Homo sapiens: one gene and its partner. The protein of the gene in region 1 purifies or fractionates together with the protein of each later gene. This does not show direct contact. Each region holds a gene or a part of one and is shown in the gene's direction. Other genes may lie near its edges.

Region 1 (3,653 bases):
TACCTATGCACCCCCCAAACTCAGATCAGTAAGTTCTTGGTTTTTGTTTTTAAACTAAAACATGGAGGAGGAGCGGTGTAGAAATTTGAAAAACTGCTTTGATGTACGTTGTCTTGTGGAAATTTTAGAGTTGCTTCCTTATTTAGGGAAGATAATTTACTCAACTCCCTTTGAACACGTTTGCTAATTCCATTTAGGTTTTATTCCAGTAAACAATAGAATTGACCCTAGTTTTACTAATCATATTAAATTTTTATATCTTAATTATAATCCAGAGAGTATCCGCTGGCTAACCTAATCTGAAAATTAACTAACTCGTGGAGGAATATTCAAGCATTCGGATAGTTTTAAATTCAACTGTGCTAATACAAAAAAAAAATTAGCTTGGCATTAAAAGGTTAGAGGAGGATATGTTTGTAAAACTAAGTGGACGATGAAAACCTGGACTTTATATCATAGAAGAACAGAGTGAAGGTAAATTGCACTGCCCTTCAAGTCAGTCATGGGAATACAAATGAGAATTCATCATTTAGTTCCCTGAACTTTGCTTGCCTCATCATACAGTGAGCTCATTGTCCATTTGTCCTCATTTTCCAATCACAAGGGATAATGAAAATAATGAGACTGACTTAACAAATAACGCCAGACTATACATTCATTGGAGTTTTGACCCTCTTAAAATTGGCATGCAAAATAATTTCCTGATGGTAGCCACCCACGTAAGCTTATGGTTTGATGACCATAGCAGCACCTTCTGTTTTGGAGATTTTTCTTACTTCCTGAAAAATACAGTATCCCACGGTTCTGAGGCAGGACTATATGCTCAGAAATGACACAATGATTATTTGAATATATTCAGTGGTAGAAAGTATCTTTTTAGTGTTGAATGTTTCAGTAACAGCAAAAAATCATTTGGAACTTAGCATGCGTGTAAAGTAATGAGACAAATTGTCTTTTCTGGTATTGGGGGCATTTTCAAAAGAGACTTAAAAAAAAAAAAACCTTCGGGGAAAATGGAAGCATAATTGGAATATATGCATGGCTTTCCATCTGGATAGCTCTGAAGAGATTCCTAAGTTCAGATATGTTAGTTGAAACTGCTCTTGAGAGTCATCTTGGGAAGGGATTGTTAGATACTTGAGGCTGAAATTGTTTGTTCCTTATTGATGAAATTAGGCACCTACCCTCTCTTTCGTGGCATGAGGCTTTGTATTTATTTAATGTACATTTTTAAATTGGGAATAGACTAAAATGGAGCTCTGCACTTGTTAGTTGCCAGAACTCATTTACATCCTACATGCCTTAGACTTTGAAAATATAGGGCCAGGCACGGTGGCTCACACCTGTAATCCCAGCACTTTGGGAACCCGAGGCGGGCAGATCACAAGGTCAGTAGTTCGAGACCAGCCTGGCCAATATGGTGAAACCCAGTCTCTACTAAAATACAAAAATTAGCCGGGGGTGGTGGCGGGCACCTGTAGCCCCAGCTACTCGGGAGGCTGAGGCAGGAGAATTGCTTGAACCTGGGAGGTGGAGGTTGCAGTAAGCCAAGATGGCACCACTGCACTCCAGCCTGGGTGACAGAGCAAGACTCCGTCTCCAAAAAAAAAAGAAAATGTAAATAAGAAATTATATACATGGAAAATGAAGGCTAAAGGTTAAATTAAGCTAAGCTACCTAGTGAGAAATTAAATGTTTTTTACTAAAGGGTCATTTTATAGGTGAGGTCTTAGTCTAAATGTTAGTATAGAAATTTTTCATGAGGAAATGTTATGTAAGCGTGTTTATGGTAAAGAATGTGATTTTTGGAGATAATCCAGTTATGAACTGAAAAGGGAAGCTTTTCAGTCAAAATGAGTGTTTTGATTCTGTTTATTGCATACAGGTCTCTTTTGGGGAAGAGCATTTTCTTTGTCTCGCTATTCTGTTAAAAGCTCCCTTCTTATCACCACCACCTCCTAGGCTTCTTTTTCTTGGAAAATTATTTAGAATATATTATATTACACATATAGCTTGACCTTTTTTTTAACAGACATTGGTAAAAGTCAGGTATTGTTTTTAATAGATATTGTCTGCCAGCAGTATTTACTGCTCTTGATGGAAAAGAACATTTCTAGAAAGAGCTCGTGTTTCTGTTTGATTGTCTACAAAATGAAATTGTTTGCTACCTGGCACTCTCTTCCTTTCCTTCTCTCTGCATAACTGCCCCCTGTAGACAGACAGATAAAACAGTAGAAAGAAGAAAATAAAGCAGAGCCCTGTTCCTGACAGCATTTGTTCCCTAGGAAATGATTGAAGCCATCCGCGAAGCGGTGGTCTACCTGGCACACACACACGATGGCGCCAGAGTGGCCATGCACTGCCTGTGGCATGGCACGCCCAAGGTAAGTGTGACAGCACTTGGGCATTTAAACTGTACAAGTCAGGGCCATGCTTTATCTGCAGGCTTGACTTAGCTGTCCTTAGACTTTTAACCCCCTTTGGTCTTTGCCCTGTTGTGCATTATCTTCCAAAAGTTGTGCCTTAGAGCCTGATGGGAATGAGCCATCTTCTTTAGGCCTAGTGTTTCTTCTTTCCTCTGCTTTAGTAGAAACCTTGAAGTTTCATTAAAGGATGGGAAGAGATCTATCAAGCAAGTAAACATAATATGTATTTAAGCTTTAGTTTATAGAGGTTTTGGTACCTCCTCTTTTAATGATCATACTGTGGCAGGGGAAAATGGGAAGAGATAACAAACAGCTGGCCACACACATTTGCTCCCATAGGTGTTATGTACTTGAGGGAAAAGGTAAAGATCCTTATTAATCACAGAAGTTTAACAGAAATTATCATTATTTCCTTGGTCAGCATAATTCTGCCTTTAAAAGATAGTTGTACTATATCTACTTTTTTTAATGCAAATTTAATTTTATTCAACAAATGCAGATGAGTACTAACTGTTTGCTAGACTCTGCATTTGAGGACAGTTTAGACCTTGGAAGAAGGATCTGTCTGGTCTCACTGTGAAAGGTGGCTTGCAAACCCTAACCCTAACCCTAACCCTAACCCTAACCCTATCACATACACATCTAAGCTTGTAATAGCTCTAAGCCAACTTCTTTGGTATATTACAGTTTTTTTGTTCTGGCTGTATAACTATTATTTTTACTAATGAAAACATATGCCACTCAAATGAAAACTTAATAAATATTATATTAAAATGTTTAACTACAAAATACCCTTAATACATAACTGAAAATTCAGTGAGACAATCTTTCCTTTTTAAGGACAGGAAAGTGATTGTGAAAACAATGAAGACTTATGTTGAAAAGGTGGCTAATGTAAGTATAATAAAACTACATATTCTAATTATTTTTGATAGTAAGATGAATTCATGTCTATTATAGAAAATTTGGAAAAATTCAGAAAATTACCAAGCAGAAAATTATTGTTTTATTATATTTTTCTTTGCATCTACATGTATTTTCATATTTTATCTACACAAAATGGAAATCATGTCACATGCATTCTTTTCTCCTTTTTTAATTTAACATTGTATTGTGATAGTTCTCTACTTTTATTAGATATTCTTTGAAAACCTGATATTTACTAGCTTTTTTGGTGAATTTGTCCAGTCATGTTAATTAAATATGGGAATTACTGCCTGGATACAG
Region 2 (3,753 bases), on another chromosome or scaffold:
CCATTTTCCAATCTGAGCCAATTAAATTTATATTTAGTTGTTTAATATGGGGAGGGAGTATAAATAGGTGTATACAGCTTTTTCCATAGCTCTTCGATTCATAATCCCTACATTTTAGCTTGTGTGAAACAGTGCTGGAGTGTGGATGTGTTTGAAGAGACTGGGAGGGGGATTGCTGGCATGGTGGGGGAGGGTCAACTCGGTAGCTTTGTCGAAGGAAGTGGTATCTGAACAGTTAGTTTCTTGGTAAACTGCTTGTTTAAGAAAATGGGGGGTGGGGTAGGCAAGTCTGGTGGTGCATTTTAAGGTTTTAAAATAGCGATATTTTATATTTTAAAGGAAATAAAGTCTTTTTAGTTAATCTATAATATTTATTATAGTATTCGATAAGGGCAGAAATACTGTTGCCAGCATCTTGTAATCAATCGTTTGAACCAGTTTGAAAGGTAAAGGGGGTAGGCATTTTGAAACTGGGGGTCAGTTGAGGAAGGACAGTAGGAGCTTCATCCGTTGTTACATTTTCGTTTATTCAACTCTTCTAGCCATTGGTAGTGGACTTTTAAAATGTCAGGGTACAAGTCAATATGATATGAATTTACCTTTTTTCTCCCACTTGTCCTTCTTTCTCCACCCCACCCCCTGCCCGCGCCGGCTTTTTTTCTCTCCCACCTCTTTCTTTGACTCTGCTGCCGCCTATCCTGGCGGCTCCTCTTCACCTCCCCTGCCTGGCGATCCCCTCCCCCTCCTGCCCTATGTCCTCCAGCTCTTGGGGAACAATCGCCACTGATTGAGGTTCACTCTATGTTAGGCTGGAAAACTGGGCTGTTATTTAGGAAGTCATTAATCACATCTCCTCCCCCGGAAAGAGATGGCAGAGAAACCTGTGAAGTACAATTCCTTACCAACCCCCTCTAAAATTTTCCAAAATGGTTTACCTAAACACAATTTGACTATATGAAGGTGAAAACGATTTTTCTAGTAGGATTTTATTTTAAATTTGAAAAAATTTCGGGCATAATCAGGTAATTTATGTGCCTCTGCCTTTTCCTAGGTGTATGTTTTCATTATCTAAAGTTTCATGGGGATGTAATTAGGTTTAATTAGATCTTTTATAAATTATATATTTTCCTCTAAGAATTGAATTAAATATGAAATTAGCGTTCCAAGCAGGTTTACTGCCATGGAATAGCTGAATTCTTAAGGGGAAAAAAAGCGTTAACATCGGTTGTTTTATTTAAACGACCCCCTCCCATGATTTTAGTCAGGCTTGTGTGTAAGGCACGCGTGTGCACATATATGACTGCCTTTTTTTCTAAATCTATGATTCACAAGGTCCCTCCATTGTGTTTAAGTAGAAGCACGAAATCAGCATTCTGATTTATCCTAAAGAAGCGTTCCAAATTGTCTTTAAGATAACATGTTTGAGTTTTTCGTGTTCATTCATAAATTATTTTGATGTCAGCATAGATGAAATGGCGATTGGTTATCTCTTCCTCTTGCCAGCCCCTTAAGGATACGAGGTGAAATTAGTAGCAAGAAAGCATGTAATTGACAAAGTCACGTGTGCTCAGGGGGCCAGAAACTGGAGAGAGGAGAGAAAAAAATCAAAAGAAGGAAAGCACATTAGACCATGCGAGCTAAATTTGTGATCGCACAAAATCAAGATGTTAGATTGATGCAGAAGATCACTCCGTTCCAAAGGGAAAGTTTTCATCTCACGAGTTTGGAGCTGAGGGCCCGTGGGGCAACATGGCCGAAGGTTAATTTTCTTTTCTATTGTTTTACTGTGAATTTCTTTCTTCTTTTCTCCTCCCCCTCCCCCTCTCCCACCCTTCTTAGACCGTCCCCCCCTTCCCCTTTTACCCCAATACTGGGCATTACCTCCCAACCCCCCATCACGCAGTGGGGCTTTCTGCAAACCTATTGTTATAGATCTCCAAAAATGTTTTGTACCGCCCACACTGATTCACAACTTGAAAAGCTTTCAGGGGGCTATTGTTTGAATTGTGTGAGTGTGATTAAGCGCAGTTTCAGTTAGTGATTCCAAGAAAACTTTTATACACCTGCCCCCTCCCCCATTCCACCCCAACTTTAATTGAAAGTTATGGGGGGGAGGGGAATGCACATTGCAAATAACGCTGGATTCAGTGCTGCCCCATGTGCCTTAACTAGTAGCTCTAAACCATCTTCACGATTTCTCTTTCCTCCTCGTGCCCGCCGGAGAGAATAGTTTCGCTGAAAATTTCTCTTTGTCAATGGGATCAGTATTAAATCAGCAATATACAAGTAAAGTATCGCATGCTGTAATGTAAAATGTGGCTGAAAAATGGAGTTAAATGAATAAGTACACGTATGTATAGAAACGTGGAAGTTGGTGTGATCGATAGAACAGTGTGGCTTCCCCCTCCCCCGCTTTCCTTTTAACCCTTTTCATTTTAAGTATTTTCTGTGGAGAAAAGAAATCAAACCATTAAAAAAAATTTTTTTTTTCTGTTACCCTTCCCCCCCAACCCCAGGCAGGCAATTTTTTTTTTTTAATCTTTGAATGCACATTGAATGGGAATACAGACTGACTTTTTTGTCCTGTTCCTTCTCAGGCGGGGCTAGCAAAGGTGGTGGAGAAGAGCCCGGGAAGCTGCCGGAGCCGGCAGAGGAGGAATCCCAGGTTTTGCGCGGAACTGGCCACTGTAAGTGGTTCAATGTGCGCATGGGATTTGGATTCATCTCCATGATAAACCGAGAGGGAAGCCCCTTGGATATTCCAGTCGATGTATTTGTACACCAAGTAAGCCAAACTTTTTTGTCCCCCTCTTCATCTTTTTCCATGTGGAGGAGCTGATCGGTAGTTATGCCAATAGACGTACGATAAGATGTCCTTCGGTATATTGAAAGACAAAATCTTCCCTGAAATCACTAGGTAGTCCAACGTTTAGGGTACGTGTATGGGCCTTTTCCTGGGTTTTCTGTCTAAAGAGAAAAGAAAATATTTGAAATTTCACTATATATATTAAGGTTGACGTTATTAGCATTTCCCCCTGCTTCATTCTACAGCGAAATAGTGTTCTTGTTGTTTCCGGTATTACCTATACAATATACTTTGTCGCCTGTATCTGGTGAATGGGTAGAAAAATGAAGAAACATGATCATTTTAAGGTTGAAAAAACAAAGCGAAACAGTTTGCTGTGGAAAGAAATGTATAGATTGCCTTATTTTAGACACCTCTAGTCACAGTAGCTCCCTTTATTATTTCATCGCTGCCTGTCCTGTAATCATTTTGTAGATTCAGATCAAAATAATTTGACTTCATAGTAAAATAAAATAGAACACTGTTGGCCTAATGTGGTTGTAAAGAAATGCGTGCAATAGAGGGATGCTTGATAAACATTTTAGAAATGTGCTCCGTGTAGTCATTGGTCTACGTATACTGTCTCTTTAAGAGACTGAACTCAAAAAAACATGTGGCCAGAGGCGGCTCTTGCTTGTGTGTTTAAAATGTGCTGGTCTGCTACTTGGGGTAAATTTCCACCTTTGCTCGTATTGTGTTGTAATTTTTAAAGATGTTTTAATACCAAACAGAATTTCATTGCTTCCCATTTTCAAAATTTTACCCAGGAAATAATGAATTAATACTTCTGCCTTTACTCCTCTCTACTGCTTAATCCCTTTATAGTAAAAAAGATACTTTTATGGAAGCCGGTTGTTTCCTCAAAAAAAGGTAAATATAAATTTTCTGTAGTTAGAAATAAAGAGGTT

What was found.
Region 2: the proteins of PUM3 (region 1) and LIN28B purify together in Homo sapiens (affinity purification with mass spectrometry; one large-scale study listed by BioGRID and IntAct). This does not show direct contact.

The regions. Positions count from the first base shown.
Region 1 is NC_000009.12:2,823,448-2,827,100, reverse strand, and holds part of PUM3 (pumilio homolog 3), read left to right. Parts: coding exon 1-28; intron 29-2,285; coding exon 2,286-2,384; intron 2,385-3,266; coding exon 3,267-3,320; intron 3,321-3,653. UniProt on the Homo sapiens protein: Inhibits the poly(ADP-ribosyl)ation activity of PARP1 and the degradation of PARP1 by CASP3 following genotoxic stress. Binds to double-stranded RNA or DNA without sequence specificity. Involved in development of the eye and of primordial germ cells.
Region 2 is NC_000006.12:104,955,502-104,959,254, forward strand, and holds the start of LIN28B (protein lin-28 homolog B), read left to right. Parts: upstream 1-1,605; 5' UTR 1,606-1,749; coding exon 1,750-1,759; intron 1,760-2,597; coding exon 2,598-2,785; intron 2,786-3,753. UniProt on the Homo sapiens protein: Suppressor of microRNA (miRNA) biogenesis, including that of let-7 and possibly of miR107, miR-143 and miR-200c.